Linked DNA regions of Homo sapiens. Changing the gene in region 4 together with the main gene of any one other region gives a genetic interaction. Each region holds a gene or a part of one and is shown on either strand. Other genes may lie near its edges. The genes, in order: RPRD2, CTCF, SEC23IP and EIPR1.

The links.
Region 1: changes in EIPR1 (region 4) and RPRD2 are lethal when combined (synthetic lethality), as found in Homo sapiens cells (one study listed by BioGRID).
Region 2: changes in EIPR1 (region 4) and CTCF are lethal when combined (synthetic lethality), as found in Homo sapiens cells (one study listed by BioGRID).
Region 3: changes in EIPR1 (region 4) and SEC23IP are lethal when combined (synthetic lethality), as found in Homo sapiens cells (one study listed by BioGRID).

Annotation. Positions count from the first base shown.
Region 1 is NC_000001.11:150,465,141-150,472,176, forward strand, and holds part of RPRD2 (regulation of nuclear pre-mRNA domain-containing protein 2), read left to right. Parts: intron 1-5,420; coding exon 5,421-7,036.
Region 2 is NC_000016.10:67,635,515-67,639,702, reverse strand, and holds the end of CTCF (transcriptional repressor CTCF), read right to left. Parts: intron 3,014-4,188; coding exon 2,852-3,013; intron 2,016-2,851; coding exon 1,831-2,015; 3' UTR 526-1,830; downstream 1-525.
Region 3 is NC_000010.11:119,895,729-119,902,764, forward strand, and holds part of SEC23IP (SEC23-interacting protein), read left to right. Parts: intron 1-2,698; coding exon 2,699-3,231; intron 3,232-7,036. UniProt on the Homo sapiens protein: Plays a role in the organization of endoplasmic reticulum exit sites. Specifically binds to phosphatidylinositol 3-phosphate (PI(3)P), phosphatidylinositol 4-phosphate (PI(4)P) and phosphatidylinositol 5-phosphate (PI(5)P).
Region 4 is NC_000002.12:3,367,783-3,374,818, reverse strand, and holds part of EIPR1 (EARP and GARP complex-interacting protein 1), read left to right. Parts: intron 1-7,036. UniProt on the Homo sapiens protein: Acts as a component of endosomal retrieval machinery that is involved in protein transport from early endosomes to either recycling endosomes or the trans-Golgi network.

The DNA.
Region 1 (7,036 bases), on a different chromosome or scaffold from region 4:
GGTGGTCATTATCCTTTTTTTTATTTTAGACAGAATTTCACTCTTGTCGCCCAGGCTGGAGTGCAGTGGCCCAATCTCAGCTCACTGCAACCTCAGCCTCCCAAGTAGCTAGGATTACAGGTGCCCACCACCACATCCAGCTAATTTTTGTATTTTTAGTAGAGACGGAGTTTTGCTATGTTGGCCAGGCTGGTCTCGAACTCCTGACCTCAGGCAGTCCACCCACCTCAGCCTCCCAAAGTGCTAGGATTACAGGCGTGAGCCACTGCGCCCCTCCTATTTTTTTTATATTTATCATCTATGAGCTGACATCTGAAGAATTATAAAATGTGAAAGCTGAAAGAGACTAAGTATTATCTAGTCTAATCCCTTACTTTTCAGGTAAGGAAACTAAGGCTCAGTAAGGTGAAAAGATCTGCTTATGGTCACATACCTATCTGTCTATTCAGTATGAGCCAAGACTGAAGGCCAGATTTCTTGACTGGAGTTCAGTATTCTTTCACCTACACCATGACACCCTAGGGGCTGCATTAGTCCCAGCTTTTAATACAGGTTTATATATGTTGAGTTTTATTAATTTCAGTGTTAACCAAAGCTGAAGACAGTAGGAAGGGTCCATTTATTATCAAAAAATATGGCCAGGTGCAGTTGCTCACGCCTGTAATCCCGGCACTTTGGGAGGCTGAGGCGGGCAGATCACCTAAGGTCAGCAGTTCAAGACCAGCCTGGCCAACCAGGTGAAATAACATCTCTACTAAAAATATGAAAATTAGCCAGGTGTGGTGACACACACCTGTAGTGTGCTGAGATCGCAGTAAGCCGGAATCACGCTACTGCACTCCAGCCTGGACGACAGAGCAAGACTCAGTCCAAAAAAAAAAAAAAAAAAAAAAATTTTTTTATGACGCTTCAAGAACATAGTGAAACCCTGTCTCTACAACGGAATTAAAAATTAGCGCCGGGCGCGGTGGCTCACGCCTGTAATCCCAGCACTTTGGGAGGCTGAGGCAGGCGGATCATGAGTTCAGGAGATCGATACCATCCTGGCTAACACAGTGAAACCCCGACTCTACTAAAAATACAAAAAATTAGCCGGGCGTGGTGGCGGGCACCTGTAGTCTTGGCTACTTGGAAGGCTGAGGCAGGAGAATGGTGTGAACCCAGGAGGTGGAGGTTGCAGTGAGCCAAGATTGCCCCACTACACTCCAGCCTGGGCAAAAGAGCAAGACTCTGTCTCAAAAAAAAAAAAAAAAAAAAAATTAGCTGGGCATAGTGGTGCATGCCTGTAGTTCCAGCTACTCAGGGGGCTAAGGCAGGAGGATCACTTGAGCCCAGGAGTTCAAGGCTGCAGTACGCTGTGGTCACCCCACTGTACTCCAACCTAAGTGATGAGACCCTGCCTCAAAAAAAAAAAAAAAAAAATTTCTGAGACATGAATATATCTTTTTTTGTCCTAATGTTTTATAGAGGCTTCATTATTTATTATTTTATTTATTATTTTATTAGAGTCTTAGATGTAGTATTTTTGTTTTCACCTACCTATAATCTCTCTCATTTGACCCTTTCTGTTCAGCTTTACTAATTATGTTTTGTGCATGACACTGCCTGTTTCTAACCTTTTTTCATAAATCTTTCCTACTCTCTACTCTCTTATGCTCCAGATACCAATGAAATCCTTTTTAAGTACCGTAGTATAATTATGAAATGAATTACAAATACCAGGGCAATATATTCAGTGTAGTGATTTACTCTATATCAGTAGTCTCAACCAAAGGCCTCCAGGGAGGACACTTGGCAATATTTGGAGACCTTTTTAGTTGTCTCAACTGGGGTAATGGTAGGGGTGCTACTGCCTCTAGTGAGTAGAGGCCAGGAGGATGCTCCTAAATATCCTACAATGTGTGAGACAGCCCCAACAATAAAGAATTATCTAGCCCAAAGTGTCAGTAGTGCTGAGGTTGAGAAACCCTGCTCTCTATCAAAGGAGTGGTGTAAAACAGTTTCCTAAACTGTTATGTAAGTGGATCATTCAAGCATATTATAGTGAACTTTGTCTGGAGGTGCAGAAGAATTTTGTTACACAGAACTAAATAGTATTAAGTAATAATCCACAGCCCCTATCTATTGGCATCAGCAATAAAGAATTGATGATGACTGCAGCACATGTTGTACTACTAATATCAGGGACAATTTGAGAGTTTGACATGTTTATGCTTTCTCCCTTTTTATTTTTATTTGTTTGTTTGTTTTTGAGACGGGGACTTGCTCTGTTGCCCAGGCTGGAGTGCAGTGGTGTGATCTCGGCTCACTGCAACCTCTGCCTCTCGGGTTCAAGTGATTCTCTTGCCTCAGCCTCTCGAGTAGCTGGTATTACAGGCTCACACCACCATGCCCGGCTAATTTTTGTATTTTTAGTAGACACGGGGTTTCGCCATGTTGGCCAGGCTGGTCTCGAACTCCTGACCTCACGTGATCCACCTGCCTCGACCTCCCAAAGTGCTGGGATTACAGGTGTGAACCACCGTGCCTGGCCGATGTGAAATTTCTGATGAGGCAAAATTTGAACAGAACTAGGTTCCTTATGGAATGTGGAATTCTCTTTGACTTTTAAAAGGATTGTATCTAGCAAGTTAAATAGATGTATTTCCTCGAAGACTGTTAATGAAATCCCAGAACTTTGTTCTGATTGTGTCATCCACAGCCCTAGGTATTGACAGATTTATAACACAAAAGAGAGACTTCAGGCCCGGTGTGGTGGGTCACACCTGTAATTCCAGCACTTTGGGGACGGGTGGATCACCTGAGGTCAGGAGTTCAAGACCAGCCTGGCCAACAGGGTAAACCTGTCTTTCCAAAAAAAAATACAAAAAAATTAGCTGGGCGTGGTGGCTCACAGCTGTAACCCCAACTACTTGGGAGGCTGAGGTAGGAGAATCGCTTGAACCCGGAAGGCAGAGGTTGCAGTGAGCCAGCCTGGGCGACGAGCAAAACTCTGTCTCAAAAAAAGAGAAACTTCAGTGGGCAAAGGAGCAGAGTATGACTTGTTATGATTAAAGAGCAAACTTTTGGCTGGGCGCAGTGGCTCATGCCTGTAATCCTAACACTTTGGGAGGCCACGATGGGAGGATCACTTGAGGCCAGGAGTTTGAGACCAGCCTGGTCAATATAGCAAAACCCCTATCTCTATTGTTTTTAAGAATTTTTAAAAATAATTAAAAAAAAAAAAGATTGGAGAACAGTAATATTTAGTGGTGAGAGACAATTTTACCTATTACCAGAAATCTGAGTAGTATATCTATCTTAAAAAGATGTTCTTTTGAAGAAGTTATCCCAAAATATCTGAAAAATATGCTGAAATATCTTCTAAAAATCATATTACATTATTATATATCACATTCTAGTGTTTGAGGACTTCTGGGTTTTGTGAGAACAGTGATTACTAAGAATTAAATCAGGCTGGGCATGGTGGCTCACGCCTGTAATCTCAGCACTTTGGGAGGCTGAAGTGGGACAATCACTTGAGCCCAAGATTTTGAGATCAGCCTGCGCAACATGGTGAGACCTTGTCTCTACTAAAAATAAAAAAGTTAGCTGGGCATAGTGATGTACACCTGTGGTCCCAGCTACTCAGGAAGCTAAGGCAGATAAATCTTTTGAGCCCAAGAGGTTGAGGTTACAGTGAGCTATGATCGCACCACTGCACTCCAGCCTGGGTGACAGAGCAAGAGCCTGTCTCTTGAAAAAAAAAAAGGAAACTATTAGTAGGGATGAATTATGTGGCTAGGGAACTTTTTTTGGAATGAAACATGCCGATTTTTTTTTTTCTTCAGAAGGATCATAACTAAAGTAAACATTATTTCAGTTGTTTGGATATTACTGAATATTGGATAACAATAAAGACCATCCAACATTATTTAGAAATAAATGGCTTTAAAATGTTACAAGGATGGAGGGGACTTGAAATTCTTTAGGCCAAATCTGTTAGAATATGGGTTAAAATTGAAATTTTGAAGAAATGTTAATTGAAATATCACATGAAGTATTTTCTTTAATCATATAATTACTAAGGAACAATGTTAGTGTATTCAGTGACTAAAAGCTATAAATTTGGGTGAAATGTATATTAAAAATTTTTTTAATTAATTTATTTTTAAATACAGAGACTCACTTTGCCACCCAGGCTGGTGTGCAGTGGCAGAGTCATAGTTAGTTTACTGTAACCTTGAACTGGGCACAAGTGATTCTCCAGCCTCAGCCTCCTGAGTAGCTAGGACTACAGGCATGCACCATCATGCCCAGCTGATTTTTAAATTTTTTTTAGAGACAGAGTCTCTCTGTGTTTCCCAGGCTGGTCTCAAACTCCTGGCCTCAAGCCATCCTCCTGCCTCTGCTGCCCAAAATGCTAGGATTACAGGCATGAGCCACCGTGCCCAGCCAAAAGTCTTCATTTGTGACCAGAAATTGGGTAAATTTTTAAAAATATGATTGAATTTATAGAACCTTCTGTTATCTTTTTGTCAAATATTTTTCTAAAAAATTTTCTACAGGAGCAGTTTGCTTTGTTGAACTTCAGCCTTTGCCCCAAAGAATTCTTTCTCAGTGCTTCTGAGAAAGTTTTGACTGTCAGTGAACACAGTTAAATTCCATCATTGTCAATCTGGACTAAATAATCCTTGGATTTTCCACACTATAAAATGGGGATTGTGTGTTTTCTTGTGAAAGGACCAGTGTCCCTGGTGGTCTGTCTTTGTAAGTCTTTGTGGTGTATGTTTGTTATAGCTACATTTTACAACCAAAACGGATGGTTGAAAGCATTGTTTTTCAAAAAGTAACAACAGTCTACCAAGAGGTGCTTCTTGAAAAAGGTGTTTGCTGTTCAGATAAGTTTCTGAAATTTGCATTTGCCTGTCTCCCGCTTGAAAATAACAATGTATATTAACTTATTAGAGATAATAAGTTTGAAGGTTGAAGGTTGGTTTGAAGGTTGGACAGGAAAGGTAGAACAGATCTGTTTGCATTTAGAGAAACACTTCCACAGATCAAACATTAAGAAATACTGGCTTAAAGTGTTGTTTTAAGAATAACTTTGCCTCCTTTCTTTTCCTGCTTTGCCTAACTTAAACTATGAATGATTCTGACATTAAAATCTCCCCCTTCCTGTTGCCTTTTATTGTGCCATGTTGGGCTGATTTCTGGACTGTACTGGAAACATTTCAGTGATTTGCTCTTTATTGATAAAATAGGCCCTGTATTTTCTGTGACATTTAGCCATTGCTTGTTTGGTCTGGATTCCTTTTGGCCTTACACTTTGTCTATCTGGTTCCCACCAAAATGAATGAGAGTATCTGATTAGCCTACATTGTTTGCATTGTATGATAGGGAGTTGTTCTTTTTAACCCCTCTAATCTTTGTTTCTACAGGCCTGTCATCTTTACTTCAGAGTGTTACTGGGAACCCAGTTCCAGCCAGTGAAGCTGCCTCACAGAGCACTTCAGCCTCCCCTGCCAACACCACAGTCTCTACCATAAAGGGAAGAAATCTGCCCTCCAGTGCCCAACCTTTTATTCCCAAAAGCTTCAACTATTCTCCTAACTCATCAACTTCTGAAGTCTCTTCAACTTCAGCCAGCAAGGCCTCAATTGGGCAAAGCCCAGGGCTCCCAAGCACTACTTTTAAACTACCTTCCAACTCTTTGGGGTTTACAGCTACCCACAATACTAGCCCTGCTGCCCCACCTACTGAAGTTACCATCTGCCAATCTTCAGAGGTCTCCAAGCCAAAGCTGGAGTCAGAGTCCACCTCCCCAAGCCTGGAAATGAAGATTCACAACTTCTTAAAAGGTAATCCTGGTTTCAGTGGCTTAAACTTAAACATCCCAATCCTGAGCAGTTTGGGGTCCAGCGCCCCATCAGAGAGCCATCCCTCAGACTTCCAGCGTGGCCCTACTAGCACCTCAATCGACAACATTGATGGAACCCCTGTACGGGATGAACGGAGTGGGACACCCACCCAGGATGAGATGATGGACAAGCCCACATCCAGCAGTGTAGATACTATGTCCCTGCTTTCTAAGATCATTAGCCCTGGTTCCTCAACACCCAGCAGTACAAGATCACCACCCCCTGGGAGAGATGAAAGCTACCCCCGAGAGCTCTCCAATTCTGTATCTACATATCGACCCTTTGGTCTGGGCAGTGAATCTCCCTATAAGCAGCCTTCTGATGGAATGGAGAGACCATCTTCCCTGATGGACTCTTCACAGGAAAAGTTCTACCCAGATACTTCTTTCCAAGAAGATGAGGATTACCGAGATTTTGAGTATTCAGGGCCTCCACCCTCTGCCATGATGAACCTAGAGAAGAAACCAGCCAAATCTATCCTGAAATCAAGCAAGCTGTCTGATACCACCGAGTACCAGCCAATTCTGTCCAGTTATAGCCACAGAGCCCAAGAATTTGGGGTAAAGTCTGCCTTCCCTCCATCTGTAAGGGCCCTCCTGGACTCTAGTGAGAACTGTGACCGTCTCTCATCTTCCCCTGGGCTATTTGGTGCCTTCAGCGTAAGAGGGAATGAACCTGGGTCTGACCGGTCACCATCACCGAGTAAGAATGATTCATTTTTCACCCCTGACTCCAACCACAATAGCTTGTCTCAATCTACCACTGGGCATCTCAGTTTGCCACAGAAGCAGTACCCAGACTCTCCTCACCCAGTCCCACATCGTTCCCTTTTCTCTCCGCAGAACACCCTTGCCGCTCCCACGGGTCACCCACCCACGTCAGGCGTGGAGAAAGTCCTGGCCTCCACCATTTCCACCACGTCGACGATTGAATTTAAGAATATGCTTAAAAACGCCTCACGTAAGCCCTCAGATGATAAGCATTTTGGCCAGGCTCCCAGCAAGGGCACTCCAAGTGATGGTGTCAGTCTCTCAAACCTCACCCAACCCAGCTTGACCGCCACTGATCAGCAGCAACAAGAAGAGCACTACCGCATAGAAACCCGCGTCTCCTCCTCCTGCTTAGACTTGCCTGAT
Region 2 (4,188 bases), on a different chromosome or scaffold from region 4:
TAAGAAGTTACAGCAGGGGCCGGGTGTGGTGGCTCACGCCTGTAATCCCAGCACTTTGGGAGGCCTAGGCAGGCGGATTACAAGGTCAGGAGATCGAGACCATCCTGGCTAACACAGTGAAACCCAGTCTCTACTAAAAATACAAAAAATTGGCCAGGCATGGTGGCAGGCGCCTGTAGTCCCAGCTACTCGGGAGGTTGAGGCAGGAGAATGGCGTGAACCTGGGAGGTGGAGGTTGCAGTGAGCTGAGATTGCGCCACTGCACTCCAGCCTGGGCAACAGAGCGAGACTCCATCTCAAACAAAACAAAACAAAACAAAACAAAACAAAAAAACAGTTACAGCAGGATGCGCTCAATATCCAGTCACCCGCCAAGATCATATCGTCCCATCTGCTAGAGAAAGTACCATCCCAGGGAACAGAGGTTGCCTGTGAAAGGCAGCAGCCTGCACAGCCTGGAACCATGTATGCAGCCCCCCAGCCTCCCTCAAGCAGGCAGGAATCACGCAAGATGGAGTCTTTGGAGCACTTGTTAATCCGTTATGATTTATTAGCTGTACAGCAGTAGATCCTCCTCCCCAGCTTTCAACCCCATTACATATTTTATTACAGGTCTCATGTTGGCGTCCTAAAATAATGAAAAATATCACACAGTACAGCTAAGTACAAAATGCATCAACCTAGAGTCTGATAGCTAACTGATGGCTCTCTTAAAAGCAATACACAGAAGAAAAAAGTGTTTGAAATCAGTAAGACTGAGGCTCTCTAAAAAACACATTTTTAAACATGTGACAGTTCATGTGCAAGAATCACTTTTTAGTTGGTTTTGCTTCACATTATTTTATTTTTTGAAGATCCAAGGTTTAAATTACTGACCTAGTGAAATTTTCTGGCCCAGCTTATAAGGGCTGCTGTGAACCACTCATAATCACCCTTCTGCCTTAACAGAAGATTTATAAAACACAACAATCAGCTACAAACAGGGCAAAGAAAATGTCGATGGGAAATCATAACTGAAAGTTAATTATACAAGGTTCAAATGCTGGCTCCGTGGGCTGGAAATCATGATCTGCCACGTGCATGTCCGTCACTGGTGGGCAGTGGTCTGGGTGCCATTCTGCTACATGATTGTGATCCAATTCCTTGTCAACATTTACACACTACAGAGTCTGTGGTAACTTAATTTGCAAGTAATTAAAATGCTGGGTTTTCTTACACTGCACTTCTTTTCAACCTCTTAATTAATGGAAAAGATTAAAATGTAAAAAAAGTTATTTACAAGCTTGACCATACCAGAAACTTTGCCAAGAAAGAGGCAAAGCTTTCAGGACAGAACCTGATCGTAGCATGCCATACTACTGGTGTGCAGCTGACTCCAAGCAAAGGGAGTCAGGGAAAAGCAAAAGCAAAAAACAGTTTAAAACTCTAAGTCCTTCCCAAGTATGCATTTACAATTAAAAACTCTCTTGGGAAGAAGACCATAGAACTCTGGGAAGCCTGGTGGCCATTCTGGAGTGGTTTACCACATGGAGGGAGGGGTCAATGTCTCCGTTTCCATCTAGGAAAACGAGTTAGTTGTCAACACTGTCCTCAGCACTTCACAGTAAACCCTCAGGGACTCAGAACATTCCATGATTTGCTAACATCAGACAGCAAGTTCTAGTTAAATCACATTTTTTTCTAACATCATCCTTGAAGTTTTCGTTCTCGGTATGTTTGGTAAAATGATGCTTTTCCCAAAGCCAAAAAAAGAAAGAAGGGAGAAAAATTAAGATGCGGGCCGTTTAAACACAGCCCAGAGAAGTCCTGGCGACGCACAAGGCTCCGCCATCACCGGTCCATCATGCTGAGGATCATCTCGGGCGTGAGGTCTCCGTTGGGGGCATCTGTGGCAGCTGGCTGGGCCTCCTCTTCCTCTCCCTCTGCGGGCTCAGCATCTGGCTCTTTTTTTACTTCAACTATAATGTTCTCAATTGCACCTGTATTCTGGTCTTCAACCTGAATGATAGCTGTTGCTGGCAAAGAAGAGCACAGACAGAACAAATGGTCCATTAAAGCCCCAAGAATCACAAGGGTCTTTTAGACTGACAGCGAACGGGATGTCAGCAATGCAGGACAGCCTTATTAGATAGCGGTCCAGAGACAGTCAATTTATTTTTTATTTTATTTTTTGAGACGGAGTCTTGCTCTATGACCAGGCTGGAGTGCACGGGCATGATCTCAGCTCACTGCAACCTCTGCCCCCCGGGTTAAAGCAATTCTCCTGCCTCAGCCTCCTGAGTAGATGGGACTACAGGTGCCCACCCCTACGCCTGGCTAATTTTTGTATTTTTAGCAGAGATGGGGTTTCACCATGTTGACCAGGCTGGTATGGAACTACTGACCTCAGGTGATCCTCCCGCCTTGGCCCCCCAAAGTGCTGGGATCACAGGCATGAGCCACCGCCTGACCCTGAGTTTCTTAGAAGGGGCAATCTCAGTGCAGAAACTGCTTTCCCTCTCCAACCTTTACGATTTGGCTCTTTTATATTCATTACCGCATCCATTCTGCCAGCTGACTGTGACTTTGGTTGTTTTTCAAAACCCGCCCACATTAACAGTACCCATCTTGCAGAACACAAGTACCCTTCTACTCTGGACTTCTTCTTGAAATGTAACAGGCCTCTAAAGACTTCCTCAGATGTTCCTCAGTAAAAACTCCTAAAAAGCCATTTCCTGAGAGTTTGTTCTCGACATGCCCTTAACTTGTTCTCATGGCTTAGTTCCCACATCCCCAAAGAACAAGGACCCATCTGGCTCCCCCACATGCTCGGAGAAGACGCCAGCCTCCAGAGCAGAGATGAACAACTTACGCTGGTTCTGTTTGGGCTGGTTGGTTCTGCCAGGGGGTCGTCCTCTCCGCTTCTTGGCGGGTGGTGGGGCTGGGGTCACAGGCTGAGGCTCTGGCTCAGGTTCAATTTCTACGGCAGGCTCCTCCTCATCCTCATTGTCGTCCAGATCTGGTTCAGCATTTTCTTTTCATGAAATCAGGAAGCACAGGTGGTGGGGCAAGGAGAAGGGTGGTGGAAGATGAAAGAAAACAATTATATATTATTTGAAGTCTTGTTTTATAAATATATATATATATATATATACACTTTCTTTCTTTTTTTTTTTTTGAGACAGTCTCACTCTATTGCCCAGGCTGGAGTGCAGTGGCGCGATCTCGGCTCACTGCAATCTCTGCCTCCCAGATTCAAGCAATTCTCGTGGCTCAGCCTCCTGAGTGGCCGGGACTACAGGCACGCACCACCATGCCCAGGTAATTTTTTTTTCCTTCTTTTTTTTTTTTTGAGACAGAGTCTCACTCTGTCGCCCAGGCTGGAATGCAGCGGCACGATCTCAGCTCACTGCAACCTCTGCAACCTGGGTTTAATTCTCCTGTCTCAGCCTCCTGAGTAGCTGTGACTACAGGCATACGCCACCACACCTGGCTGATTTTTGTATTTTTAGTAGAGATGGGGTTTCACCATATTGGTCAGGCTGGTCTTGAATTCCTGACCTCAGGTGATCCACCTGCCTCGGCCTCCCAATGTGCTGGGATTACAGGCATGAGCCAACGTGCCCAGCCAATCCAGATAATCTTTGTATTTTTTGTAGAGATGGGGTTTCGCCATGTTGGCCAGGCTGGTCTCAAACTCCTGACCTCAGGCAATCTGCCTGCTTCGGCCTCCCAAAGTGCTGGGATTACAGGTGTGAGCCAGCATGCTCAGCCAATTATTAAGAAAAATCAATTTAAGGCTGGGCACGGTGGTTCACACTTGTAATCCCAGCACGTTGGGAGGCTGAGGTTGGAGGATCACTCATGTTCAGGAGTTCAAGACCAGCTTGGGTAACATAGTGAGACCTTATCTCTACAAGAAATAAGAAACTGGCAGCTGGGCGTGGTGGCTCACACCTGTAATCCCAGTACTTTGGGAGGCTGAGGTGGGTGTATCACCTGAGGTTGGGAGTTTGAGACCAGCCTGTCCAACATGGAGAAACCCTGACTCTACTAAAAATATAAAATTAGCTGGGCGTGGTGGCGCATACCTGTAATCCCAGCTACTCGGGAGGCTGAGGCAGAAGAATCACTTGAACCTGGGAGGCGGAGGTTGCGGTGAGCTGAGATCCGCCACTGCACTCCAGCCTGGGCCACAAGAGTGAAACT
Region 3 (7,036 bases), on a different chromosome or scaffold from region 4:
AAAATCTTCAGATTTGGCAGGAGTTAGTGGTTGGTGGAATGGGACAGGGATGGAGCTCATCCCTCTCTCCTGTCCCTTCACCTTTGTCTCCTCTCCCCTGTGTCCTCTGCCCCCAGTAGATCACTTTGACTAGAGTGTGTGCAGTGGAGTGGCCTCAGTGATCTATGGGCCACATATGCCATACTCAGGAGGAGTTTGTAGTTCATCTTGTGGGGTGTTGGGGAGCCTTTGAAGGATTTTCAACAAGGCAGTGAAATTAGACGTGTGTTTCAGAAAGACTGGAGTTTTCTCTAGTCGCACTGGAATAAGGTTGACTGTAGCAAGAGGATTCAGTTGGGAGGCATAGTGAGAGGCTGGCAGTGGCTATGGCAGTCTAGCCTGAGTCAGCCACATTGGGTGTGAGGAGCAGGGAGCAGATGTGCGAGATGTGTGGACTATACAGTTGTAGAGACTCACAGAAGACCAGAGTGTCAGCTCTGTCTGTCAGAACAGAGGCCCATTTTTGTTTAGTTTTAGACCCAAGACTGAGCTCTGTACCTGGCACAGAATGCATCCTGAGTAAATATTTCTTGAATAAATATTTGAATGATTAAATGAAGGGTTTGAGAGAGAGGGAGGAGTCTCAGACTTGAGGTTTCTGGTTTGAATGTCTGAATGAATGTTGGCAAACATCTGTGGAGATTGTGAAATACAGAAAAGGGAGCATGGAGGTGGGTAGTTAAGATAAACTCCGTTTTAGGCTTACTAAGCATGAGGTATATGTGACTGAATCTGCCAAAAACATTGAGGAAGTAGTTGGAAAACAAGTTCTGGAACACACGAGAATGGTCTGGGCTTACGATGGAGTTGGGAGTGTCACAAATATACAAGTGCCTGTTAAAGTTGTGGCTTTAGATGACATGTGTCCAAATGAAATGAGAAAGTGCCCCTGAGGTGAGGGTAGCAGTATATGGAGAGCACTTCATTTGTAGTTGATGCTAATCAGAAAAAAAGTTTCTCGGACCAGGTTGACCTCAAGTTTTTCTAAAGGATGAAAGATACCACTGAGTTTTTTTTTTTTTCATTCTTTTAATTGTTGGGAATGAACTAAGAAATACAAATAAGTCCAAGTGAGGGTCACTGACCTGAAAAGAGGGGTGGGAGCTGGAAATATATCAGAGAAGTGGAATGATTCAAGTAGACACAAGGCCTTGTGCAGCAAGGGATATTTTATTTTTAGTTACAAAGAAACTACCAAAAGGAGTATTTTGAATGGTGGAGTATTTTAGTTAAACTGATGTGTGTAAATAATGAGAGCTCAAGAAGCTCAAGCCCTAGTCTCAGCAGAGGTCAAGAAGCTTGGAGCCCGGAGCTTGGAATAAGGCTGCCTGTTGGCAGGTCTCCAAGGGCAGGGACCGAAGTGTGCCTGTGTGCTGTGAGTGAGTCCAGCCCTCTGATGGATTCCATGCCTCCAGCAAGGAGGTAAGAGGGAATGAGGCAGGAGCAGGGAAGATTAGGAGGAGGAATATGAAAGCTACAAGCTAGGGAACATAAAAGTTTCGTAAGGAATAATAGTAACGTGGACTTTTGAGGTGATATACAGGGAAGATGCTTTTATTTTACAACTTGGTAGTAGAACAGAAGCTAAATTATTTGGAGTCGTTAATACCCACAGTGAACATCAAGTTGGGCAAAGGGATGGGAGATCTTCCCTTGGTTAGAAAGTGACCTTCTCAGCAATTTGGTATTCTGTAATGATAAGTCTGTGATAGTGCATGATTTTAGGGAATGGCAATTAATGGTTGACCTACTTGGGAATACAAATACCACGTGTTCATTTGTACAATAAGTGCTTTGTAGGTGAGATTCCTGACACACCCCTTCTTGTCAACAGAGTTATCTTTAGTCTCTTGTTATCACTATAGAAATAAAAATATATGTATTTGGGTAGTCGAGTAACAGTTGAATTATTTCTTACCAAGAAAAAAAGATAAAAAATAATATGTAAGGCTGGGCACGGGGGCTCATGCCCGTAATCCCAGCACTTTGGGAGGCCAAGGCAGGCAGATCACTTGAGGTCAGGAGTTCAAGACCAGCCTGGTCAACATGGTGAAACTTCATCTCTACTAAAAAAAAAAAATACAAAAATTAGCTGGGTGTGGTGGTGGGTGCCTGTAATCCCAGCTACTCGGGAGGCTGAGGCAGGAGAATGGCGTGAACCTGGGAGGCGGAGCTTGCAGTGAGCTGAGATTGCGCCACTGCACTCCAGCCTGGGCGACAGAGCGAGACGCCGTCTCAAAAAAAAATAAAAAAAAAAAAATAAATAAAAATAGTAAGTATAGATTTTGTTTCTATTTTTAAAAACATATACAAATATATATTTACAAAATAAATAACTATTTGTATTTATTTTAGAAGTATGGAAGGGTATGTAGCAAAATGTTAACAGTGTTAACAGCGTGATTGTCTCTGGCAGGTGGGCTTATGAATGAATTATAATTGTTTCCTCTTATGTTTTCTTATTCATGTTTTCTAGTTTTTCATTTCTAAGAAGCAAGTTTTCAAAGAAAAAAAGAAAAAACTGTTTTTTTCTGTAATGCAGAAATAGCAAGTTTGAAGAACAAATAAGGAAGTATAATTGCTAGCCCTTCCTTATAGAATCGTATCTGCGGAGTGATAGAGTACCCTTTAAACCACATGCTCTCCTGTTCCATTTCAGAGGATTCCACAGATGTTGGTGAGGAGGACAGCTTCCTTGGTCAGACTTCTATTCACACATCTGCCCCACAGACATTTAGTTACTTCTCTCAGGTATCAAGCAGCAGTGATCCTTTTGGGAATATTGGACAGTCACCATTAACAACTGCAGCAACCTCAGTTGGACAATCAGGATTCCCCAAGCCCCTGACTGCTCTCCCTTTTACAACTGGATCCCAAGATGTCTCGAATGCATTTTCACCATCCATTTCGAAGGCTCAACCTGGTGCTCCACCTTCCTCACTGATGGGAATAAATTCTTATCTGCCTTCTCAGCCAAGTAGTCTCCCTCCTTCATATTTTGGGAACCAACCCCAAGGAATTCCCCAACCAGGATACAATCCATATCGCCATACCCCTGGCAGCAGCAGGGCTAATCCTTACATTGCACCACCCCAGCTGCAGCAGTGCCAAACACCAGGCCCTCCTGCTCATCCTCCACCTTCTGGACCCCCTGTTCAGATGTACCAGATGCCTCCAGGATCTTTGCCACCGGTATGGAGACATGATTTTGTGTCCTACTTATTCACTCTGTGTCTTCTTTCTCACCTGAACCTATGTTTTAAAAAACATTTCACATCTTATAATCAATATGGTGACAAATTAGTTTCAGAGGGTATTCTTTGTAAGCTACATGAAGTAAACATTGTCTTAAAGATAGCTTATTGGATGGCTCATATTTTAGTGTATATTACCTGTTTATTGAAGCAGTAACTGATTTTAATGAGTTAGCTACGTGTCAGTATTTCCAGATTTTAGAGTACGGTAAAAATAAGTGTTGTCTAGAGACATAGGAGAATTGAAGCGGTTATTGTCTTAACAGACTGCTAGTTTCTCATCTTTCAATTACACTAGTCAATCAAAACACTCAATTACAGGGACTAAAATTGATTACTTCAGTAATTTCTTTATGGAGTTTGGATCTAGATCAGTCAAACTCTATCTAGGGAGAGTTGGTGGAATAACGTATGCATTGGGTAAATTTCATGAAATTCCCTTATGCATTTTTCCCAACTAATTGTTTATTTGATTTCCAAAGAAAAATCAACAGAATTAAACAAAAAGAGAAATGATTAAAAAGAATTAAGAACCCATTTCAGTGTGGTGGAGATAGCAGTATTGTGATCAGAATGTAACTAACTTCTCTGTTAGAGATAGAGAATGGACTCTGTTTTATCATTTCATTTAAATCATACCAATACACAAATTTTTGACAATGTTGGATTTCGGCATTCTGAAAAGTAACCAGATTCATAGCATGTGGTATATAGTTAGTATTTTTGCTAACTATAACAAACTAATTGTAGTTTGTTGCTTAAATTTTTAAAAAGGTTTTTAGATAAAAGTTTAAAAAATGATAATTTCAAACTTGAAGAAAAGTTGCAAAAATAAAAAGAGTACAAAGAGCACTCTAATATCCTTTACTCAGGTTTACTTATCATTAACATTTCATCCCGTTTGTTTTTTAATTTGTGCATGTGCACACCCTGGCATATGTGAGCCCTCCCTCTTCCCCCATCCCTTTCTCCTGCCCCTTCCTCCTGCTTCTCCTCCTGCCCCTCCCTCTTCCCTCCCTTCCCCTCATCGTTTTTTTCTCTTTCTGTATATATGCAATTTTGGGGGGAATATTTGAAGGTCAGTAAAATACATTATGATTCTTTACTCCTAAATTCCTGGTGTACATTTGCTAAGCATAAGGACATTCTTCTTATGTGCACAGTGCAGCTATGAATCTCAGGAAATTGAGTGTTGATGTAATACTTCAAAATGATTTTTTAGAAATTATATATGTGTATGTATATGTACGTGTGTGTGTATGTGTGTGTGTGTGTGTATATATATATATATAAAATTTTTTTTTTTGAGGCCAGGTCTTGCTCTGTCACTCAGGCTAGAGTGCAGTGGCATGGTAACGGCTCACTGTAGCCTCGAATTCTCAGGTTCAAGTGATCCCCCTACCTCAGCCTCACCAGTAGCTGGGACCACAGGCACATGCTGCCATACCTGGCTAATTTTTTTTTTATGTTTTGTAGAAATGAGGTCTCACTATGTTGCCCAGGCTGGTCACAAACTCCTGGGCTCAAGCAGTCCTCCTGCCTTGACCTCCCAAAGTTCTGGGATTATGGGCTAAATTATATATTTTTTTGAGACTGGGTCTCACTCTGTTGTCCAGGTTGGAATGCAGTGGCGCAATCACAGCTCACCTGCAGTCTCAAACTCCTGGGCCTCAAGTGATCTTCCTGCCTCAGCCTACCAAAGTGCTGGGATTACAGGTGTGAGCCACCACACCTGTCCCAAAATGGTGTCTAATTAAAAAATTTTAAAATAAGTCTAGTCTGATTTTAAAATCGTTTTTGTAGAAAATTTGAAAAATGCAGAATACTCAATTTAATAAAAAATGTCCATAGATAACCACTGTTTTCATTTTGTTATATGTCTTTTTTTGGCAAACATATAATACCTATGGTTTCTATAATCTATTTTTTTTTTGTGTGAACATACTTTAAATGTTACTAAGATTTTTTCTAAAACATTAAAATTTTTTTCTTTTTCTTCTTCTTTTTTTTTTTTTTAAAGAGTGGGGGGGGGGTCTTGCTCTGTCATCCAGGGTGGAGTGCAGTGGTGTGATTACAGCTCACTGCAACCTTGAACTACACTTCAGCCTCAGGAGTAGCTGGGACTACAAGTGTGCCCCACCATGTCCGTGTGATTTTTAGATTTTTTTGTAGAAACGGTATTGCTGTGTTGCTCATGTTGGGCTCAAACTCCTGGCCTCAAATGATCCTCCTTCCTTGGCCTCCCAAAGTTCTGGGATTATAGGTGTGAACCATCGTGTCTATCCTCTAAAACTTTTATTTTTGTTTATTTACTTATTTTTTTTTTTAGCTATCTCCTGCAGAAAGGATATAAGACATTTTTAATGGCGCTGGAGGATCTAGCATTTGAGTTAAATATTATTTAATCAGGTTTCTGTTAGACATTTTGATTATTTCCAGTGATTTCCTATTTTATTTATTTTTTTGCAAACATTCCAAATTTATTAGCTATGATTTTATAATCAACATTATTGAGGTATAATTTACATACAGTAAAAGGCATCCATTTACAGTATACAATTCGATTTATTTAAAGTGTACAATTAGCTGAGTTTTGACAGTTGTACACACCAATTTCCTATTTTAAATAACCTTTTGATGTATATCCTTGGGGATAACTTTTTATTTTTATTTTTTATTTATTGTTTGAGACAGAGTCTCTGTCACTCAGGCTGGAGTGCAGTGGTGCAGTCTCAGCTCACTGCAACCTCCGCCTCCCGGGTTCAAGCGATTCTCCTGCCTCAGCCTCCCAAGTAGCTGGGATTGCAGGCCTGTGCCACCACGCCCAGCTAATTTTTGTATTTTTAGTGGAGACAGGGTTTCACCATGTTGGCCCGGCTTGTCTCGAACTCCTGACCTTAGGTGATCCACCCACCTCAGCCTCCCAAAGTGGCAGGATTACAGGTGTGAGCCACTGCACCTGGGCTATTTGTTTTTATAATTCTATCTTTAGGATAAATTTTTAGAAATGGAATGAGTAGGTCAAGGAGTAGGCACATTTTAAAGGTTAAATAGGCCGGGTGTGGTGGCTCACACCTGTAATCCCAACACTTTGAGAGGTCAAGGCGGGCTGGTCACTTGAGGTTGGGAGTTCGCAACCAGCCTGACCAACCTGGAGAAACCCTGTCTCTACTAAAAATACAAAATTAGCTGAGTGTGGTGGCGCATGCCTGTAATCCCAGCTACTTGGGAGGCTGAGGCAGGAGAATCGCTTGAACTCGGGAGACGGAGGCTGTGCATTGCGCCGTTGCACTCCAGGCTGGGCAAGAAGAGCAAACTCCGCCTCACACACACAAAAAAGGTTAAATAAATCATGGGAGATGTATTGCTAGATTGATTTCTGTAAAGGTGTTAGTTTACTTTGTGTTCTGTGAGAAGGTCTGGTTCACCTTGTAATTGATTTTTTTCTAAATTTTTTAATTTTTAATTTTTGTGGGTACATAGTAGGTATATATGTTTATGGGTTACATGAGATATTTTGATACAGGCATGCAATGTGTAATCATCACATCAGGATAAATGGGGTATAGATATCCCTCACCTCAAGCATTTATCCTTGATTTGGGGTTTTGTTAGGTTTAAAAATTCTTCTTAAAATTGCTTTGGGGTCTAGTTATTACACTAAGTAATTGTCCAGATATACATGTAGGATAATCTACTAACATCAGTTTGGGTGTGAAGCATATTCAGAATTCTTTTGGACA
Region 4 (7,036 bases):
CACTGACTTCCACAATGGTTGAACTAGTTTACAGTCCCACCAACAGTGTAAAAGTGTTCCTATTTCTCCACATCCTCTCCAGCACCTGTTGTTTCCTGACTTTTTAATGATTGCCATTCTAACTGGTGTGAGATGGTATCTCATTGTGGTTTTGATTTGCATTTCTCTGATGGCCAGTGATGATGAGCATTTTTTCATGTGTCTTTTGGCTGCATAAATGTCTTCTTTTGAGAAGTGTCTGCTCATATCCTTTGCCCACTTTTTGATGGGGTTTTTTGTTTTTTTCTTGTAAATTTGTTTGAGTTCATTGTAGATTCTGGATATTAGCCCTTTGTCAGATGAGCAGGTTGTGAAAATTTTCTCCCATTTTGTAGGTTGCCTGTTCACTCTGTTGGTAGTTTCTTTTGCTGTACAGAAGCTCTTTAGTTTAATGAGATCCCATTTGTCAATTTTGGCTTTTGTTGGCATTGCTTTTGGTGTTTTAGACATGAAGTCCTTGCCCATGCCTATGTCCTGAATGGTAATGCCTAGGTTTTCTTCTAGGGTTCTTATGGTTTTAGGTCTAACGTTTAAGTCTTTATTCCATCTTGAATTAATTTTTGTATAAGGTGTAAGGAAGGGATCCAGTTTCAGCTTTCTACATATGGCTAGCCAGTTTTCCCAGCACCATTTATTAAATAGGGAATCCTTTCCCCATTGCTTGTTTTTGTCAGGTTTGTCAAAGATCAGATAGTTGTAGATATGCGGCATTATTTCTGAGGGCTCTGTTCTGTTCCATTGATCTGTATCTCTGTTTTGGTACCAGTAACATGCTGTTTTGGTTACTGTAGCCTTGTAGTATAGTTTGAAGTCAGGTAGCGTGATGCCTCCAGCTTTGTTCTTTTGGCTTAGGATTGACTTGGCGATGAGGGCTCTTTTTTGGTTCCATATGAACTTTAAAGTAGTTTTTTCTAATTCTGTGAAGAAAGTCATTGGTAGCTTGATGGGGATGGCATTGAATCTATAAATTACCTTGGGCAGTATGGCCATTTTCACGATATTGATTCTTCCTACCCATGAGCATGGAATGTTCTTCCATTTGTTTGTATTCTCTTCTATTTCATTGAGCAGTGGTTTGTAGTTCTCCTTGAAGAGGTCCTTCATGTGCCTTGCAAGTTGGATTCCTAGGTATTTTATTCTCTTTGAAGCAATTGTGAATGGGAGTTCACTTATGATTTGGCTCTCTGTTTGTCTGTTATTGGTGTATAAGAATGCTTGTGATTTTTGTACATTGATTTTGTATCCTGAGACTTTGCTGAAGTTGCTTATCAGCTTAAGGAGATTTTGGGCTGAGACAATGGGGTTTTCTAGATATACAATCATGTCGTCTGCAAACAGGGACAATTTGACTTCCTCTTTTCCTAATCGAATAGCCTTTATTTCCTTCTGCCTAATTGCCCTGGCCAGAACTTCCAACACTATGTTGAATAGGAGTGGTGAGAGAGGGCATCCCTGTCTTGTGCCAGTTTTCAAAGGGAATGCTTCCAGTTTTTGCCCATTCAGTATGATATTGGCTGTGGGTTTGTCATAGATAGCTCTTATTATTTTGAGATACTTCCCATCAATACCTAATTTATTGAGAGTTTTTAGCATGAAGCGTTGTTGAATTTTGTCAAAGGCCTTTTCTGCATCTATTGAGATAATCATATGGTTTTTGTCTTTGGTTCTGTTTATATGCTGGATTACATTTATTGATTTGCGTAGATTGAACCAGCCTTGTATCCCAGGGATGAAGCCCGCTTGATCATGGTGGATAAGCTTTTTGATGTGCTGCTGGATTCAGTTTGCCAGTATTTTATTGAGGATTTTTGCATCAATGTTCATCAAGGATATTGGTCTAAAATTCTCTTTTTTGGTTGTGTCTCTGCCCGGCTTTGGTATCAGGATGATGCTGGCCTAATAAAATGAGTTAGGGAGGATTCCCTCTTTTTCTATTGATTGGAATAGTTTCAGAAGGAATGGTACCAGTTCCTCCTTATACCTCTGGTAGAATTCGGCTGTGAATCCATCTGGTCCTGGACTCTTTTTGGTTGGTAAGCTATTGATTATTGCCACAATTTCAGATCCTATTATTGGTCTATTCAGAGATTCAACTTCTTCCTGGTTTAGTCTTGGGAGAGTGTATGTGTTGAGGAATTTATCCATTTCTTCTAGATTTTCTAGTTTATTTGCGTAGAGGTGTTGGTAGTATTCTCTGATGGTAGTTTGTATTTCTGTGGGATTGGTGGTGATATCCCCTTCGTCATTTTTTATTGCGTCTATTTGATTCTTCTCTTTTTTTCTTTATTAGTCTTGCTAGCGGTCTATCAATTTTGTTGATCCTTTCAAAAAACCAGCTCCTGGATTCATTAATTTTTTGAAGGGTTTTTTGTGTCTCTATTTCCTTCAGTTCTGCTCTGATTTTAGTTATTTCTTGCCTTCTGCTAGCTTTTGAATGTGTTTGCTCTTGCTTTTCTAGTTCTTTTAATTGTGATGTTAGGTGTCAATTTTGGATCTTTCCTGCTTTCTCTTGTGGGCATTTAGTGCTATAAATTTCCCTCTACACACTGCTTTGAATGTGTCCCAGAGATTCTGGTATGTTGTGTCTTTGTTCTCATTGGTTTCAAAGAACATCTTTATTTCTGCCTTCATTTCATTATGTACCCAGTAGTCATTCAGGAGCAGGTTGTTCAGTTTCCATGTAGTTGAGCGGTTTTGAATGAGTTTCTTAATCCTGAGTTCTAGTTTGATTGCACTGTTGTCTGAGAGATAGTTTGTTATAATTTCTGTTCTTTTACATTTGCTGAGGAGAGCTTTACTTCCAACTATGTGGTCAATTTTGGAATAGGTGTGGCGTGGTGCTGAAAAAAATGTATATTCTGTTGATTTGGGGTGGGGAGTTCTGTAGATATCTATTAGGTCCGCTTGGTGCAGAGCTGAGTTCAATTCCTGGGTATCCTTTTTAACTTTCTGTGTCGTTGATCTGTCTAATGTTGACAGTGGGGTGTTAAAGTCTCCCATTATTATTGTGTGGGAGTCTAAGTCTCTTTGTAGGTCACTCAGGACTTACTTTATGAATCTGGGTGCTCCTGTATTGGGTGCATATATATTTAGGATAGTTAGCTCTTGTTGTTGAATTGATCCCTTTACCCTTAAGTAATGGGCTTCTTTGTCTCTTTTGATCTTTGTTGGTTTAAAGTGTGTTTTATCAGAGACTAGGATTGCAACCCCTGCCTTTTTTTGTTTTCCATTTGCTTGGTAGATCTTCCTCCATCCTTTTATTTTGAGCCTATGTGTGTCTCTGCACGTGAGATGGGCTTCCTGAATACAGCACACTGATGGGTCTTGACTCTTTATCCAATTTGCCAGTCTGTGTCTTTTAATTGGAGCATTTAGTGCATTTACATTTAAGGTTAATATTATGTGTGAATTTGATCCTGTCATGCTGTTAGCTGGTTATTTTGCTTGTTAGTTGATGCAGTTTCTTCCTAATGTCGATGGTCTTTACATTTTGGCATGAGTTTGCAGCGGCTGGTACGGTTATGCCTTTCCATGTTTAGTGCTTCCTTCAGGAGCTCTTTTAGGGCAGGCCTGGTGGTGGCAAAACCTCTCAGCATTTGCTTGTCTGTAAAGTATTTTATTTCTCCTTCACTTATGAAGCTTAATTTGGCTGGATATGAAATTCTGGGTTGAAAATTATTTTCTTTAAGAATGTTGAATATTGGCCCCTACTCTCTCCTGGCTTGTAGAGTTTCTGCCGAGAGATCCGCTGTTAGTCTGATGGGCTTCCCTTTGTGGGTAACCCGACCTTTCTCTCTGGCTGCGCTTAACATTTTTTCCTTCATTTCAACTTTGGTGAATCTGACAATTATGTGTCTTGGAGTTGCTCTTCTCGAGGAGTATCTTTGTGGCATTCTCTGTATTTCCTGAATCTGAATGTTGGCTTGCCTTGCTAGATTGGGGAAGTTCTCCTGGATAATATCCTGCAGAGTGTTTTCCAACTTGGTTCCATTCTCCCCATCACTTTCAGGTACACCAATCAGGTGCAGATTTGGTCTTTTCACATAGTCCCATATTTCTTGGAGGCTTTGTTCATTTCTTTTTATTCTTTTTTCTCTAAACTTCCCTTCTCGCTTCATTTCATTCATTTCATCTTCCATCACTGATACCCTTTCTTCCAGTTGATCGCATCGGCTCCTGAGGCTTCTGCATTCTTCACATAGTTCTCGAGCCTTGGCTTTCAGCTCCATCAGCTCCTTTAAGCACTTCTCTGTATTGGTTATTCTAGTTATACATTCGTCTAAATTTTTTTCAAAGTTTTCAACTTCTTTGCCTTTGGTTTGAATTTCCTCCTGTAGCTCGGAGTAGTTTGATCGTCTGAAGCCTTCTTCTCTCAACTCGTCAAAGTCATTCTCCGTCCAGCTTTGTTCCGTTGCTGGTGAGGGACTGCGTTCCTTTGGAGGAGGAGAAGCGCTCTGCTTTTTAGAGTTTCCAGTTTTTCTGCTCTGTTTTTTCCCCATCTTTGTGGTTTTATCTACTTTTGGTCTTTGATGATGATGATGTACAGATGGGTTTTTGGTTGGATGTCCTTTCTGTTTGTTAGTTTTCCTTCTAACAGACAGGACCCTCAGCTGCAGGTCTGTTGGAGTTTGCTAGAGGTCCACTCCAGACCCTGTTTGCCTGGGTATCAGCAGCGGTGTCTGCAGAACCGCGGATTTTCGTGATCCGCGAATGTTGCTGTATGATCGTTCCTCTGGAAGTTTTGTCTCAGAGGAGTACCCGGCCGTGTGAGGTGTCAGTCTGCCCCTACGGGGGGGGTGCCTCCCAGTTAGGCTGCTCGGGGGTCAGGGGTCAAGGACCCACTTGAGGAGGCAGTCTGCCCGTTCTCAGATCTCCAGCTGCGTGCTGGGAGAACCACTGCTCTCTTCAAAGCTGTCAGACAGGGACATTTAAGTCTGCAGAGGTTACTGCTGTCTTTTTGTTTGTCTGTGCCCTGCCCCCAGAGGTGGAGCCTACAGAGGCAGGCAGGCCTCCTTGAGCTGTGGTGCGCTCCACCCAGTTCGAGCTTCCCGGCTGCTTTGTTTACCTAAGCAATCCTGGGCAATGGCGGGCGCCCCTCCCCCAGCCTCGCTGCCACCTTGCAGTTTGATCTCAGACTGCTGTGCTAGCAATCAGCGAGACTCCGTGGGCATAGGACCCTCCGAGCCAGGTGTGGGATATAATCTCCTGGTGCGCTGTTTCCTAAGCCCGTCGGAAAAGCGCAGTATTTGGGTGGGAGTGGCTCAATTTTCCAGGTGTTGTCTGTCACCCCTTTCCTTGACCAGGAAAGGGAACTCCCTGACCCCTTGCACTTCCCGAGTGAGGCAATGCCTCGCCCTGCTTCGGCTTGCGCACGGTTCGCTGCACCCACTGACCTGCGCCCACTGTCTGGCACTCCCTAGTGAGATGAACCCGGTACCTCATATGGAAATGCAGAAATCACCCGTCTTCTGCGTTGCTCACGCTGGGAGCTCTAGACCGGAGCTGTTCCTAGTCGGCCATCTTGGCTCCTCCCTGAAATATTATTTTCTGAGGTTTGAAAAATGAATGAAATTGATTCTCTAAGGTAGTCAAATATATTATTGGATTTTCTTCTTTATCTTAAAAGAAGTAGCTGACTTTTGCTACTTGGATTTTATCGGATAGTATCATGGACCAAGACTTTCTTAAGTTTGAAGAACCATCATTGCAGTAAACAAGAAAACTGAAAAGGATAGTGTTTTTTTTTGTTTGTTTGTCAGTGACATTCAAATCCCATGGAGAACACTTTACATGAAAGGATAGAGATCTGATCGTTGACCGCTGAGTGAAGGTAATGACACTTGAAAGATAAAGGGCAGTACTGCAACTGCAAATAAAAGACCAACACGGAGGGTCGTTAAGATCGCAAAATGCTGAGCAAATTCATGGTAATGATTCTGGATTTTTTTATAATTATATTTGAAATGCATGAAATTTCAAATGATATTTGAAATGCTTTTGCACACTTTTAGTTTACTGCTCAGTAGAAATCCATTTTCTCAATATGAGTTTAATGAATACTTGTCAGTTAACACAACAGTAGTTCTTTGTGACTATCTCAAAGTGCATACAAACAGTATGACTTCTCTCCTGCAATCATGTTTCTTTGAACTTTTGACATTAATAGATCTTCTTTGTTGTGTGGGTCAAATCTCCATGTGGCAAACTTGCCTTGTGATGGGAACAGTGAACCTCTAGGCAGTGGTGGCTCTGCCCATGTGTAGGTCTGGGGGCAGGCATGTGACTAAGATGGACCAGCGGCAAGCAGGGCCTGCAGGTGTGGGCAGAGTGAGGGCTACATCTGCCAACTCCTATTTGAGCCCACTGCTGCCAAGTGAGCTGGGCCAGACCAGAAAGGACGGTCGGGGTGGGAAGGTGGGTGACAATGATGACTTGGGCTTGTTTCAAGTTGCTTTCCCTTCGGTTTACCACCAAAACCAGGAAGCAAGCAGGGCAGGTTGTAAGCCACACAAGGATATGCGTGCCTCCTTTCTGTTCTGGGAGGTTCTCCTGGAGTCCTGAGATCAGTGCAGTCAGGTCAGAGGGGCAAAGAGACTGTGGGCTTTTGGCTTTTTGTGCCATCAGTCTGAGGGACAGATGGACCAGGCCAGCGCTTCAGGGTCTGCCTGTTGCCAAGTGAGGAAAGACTTTTGAAATGGAAGATGGAGATTAAATTTTCTTTTCTTTTTTCTTTTTTTGAGACAGAGTCGCTCTGTCACCCGGGCTGGAGTGCAGTGGCGCGATCTCAACTCACTGCAAGCTCCGCCTCCCGGGTTCACGCCATTCTCCTGCCTCAGCCTCCTGAGTAGCTGGGTCTACAGGCGCCTGCCACCGCGCCTGGCTAATTTTTTGTATTTTTAGAGAGGGGGTTTCAGGGTGTTAGCCAGGATGGTCTCGATCTCCTGACCTTGTGATCCGTCTGCCTTGGCCTCCCAAAGTGCTGGGATTACAGGTGTGA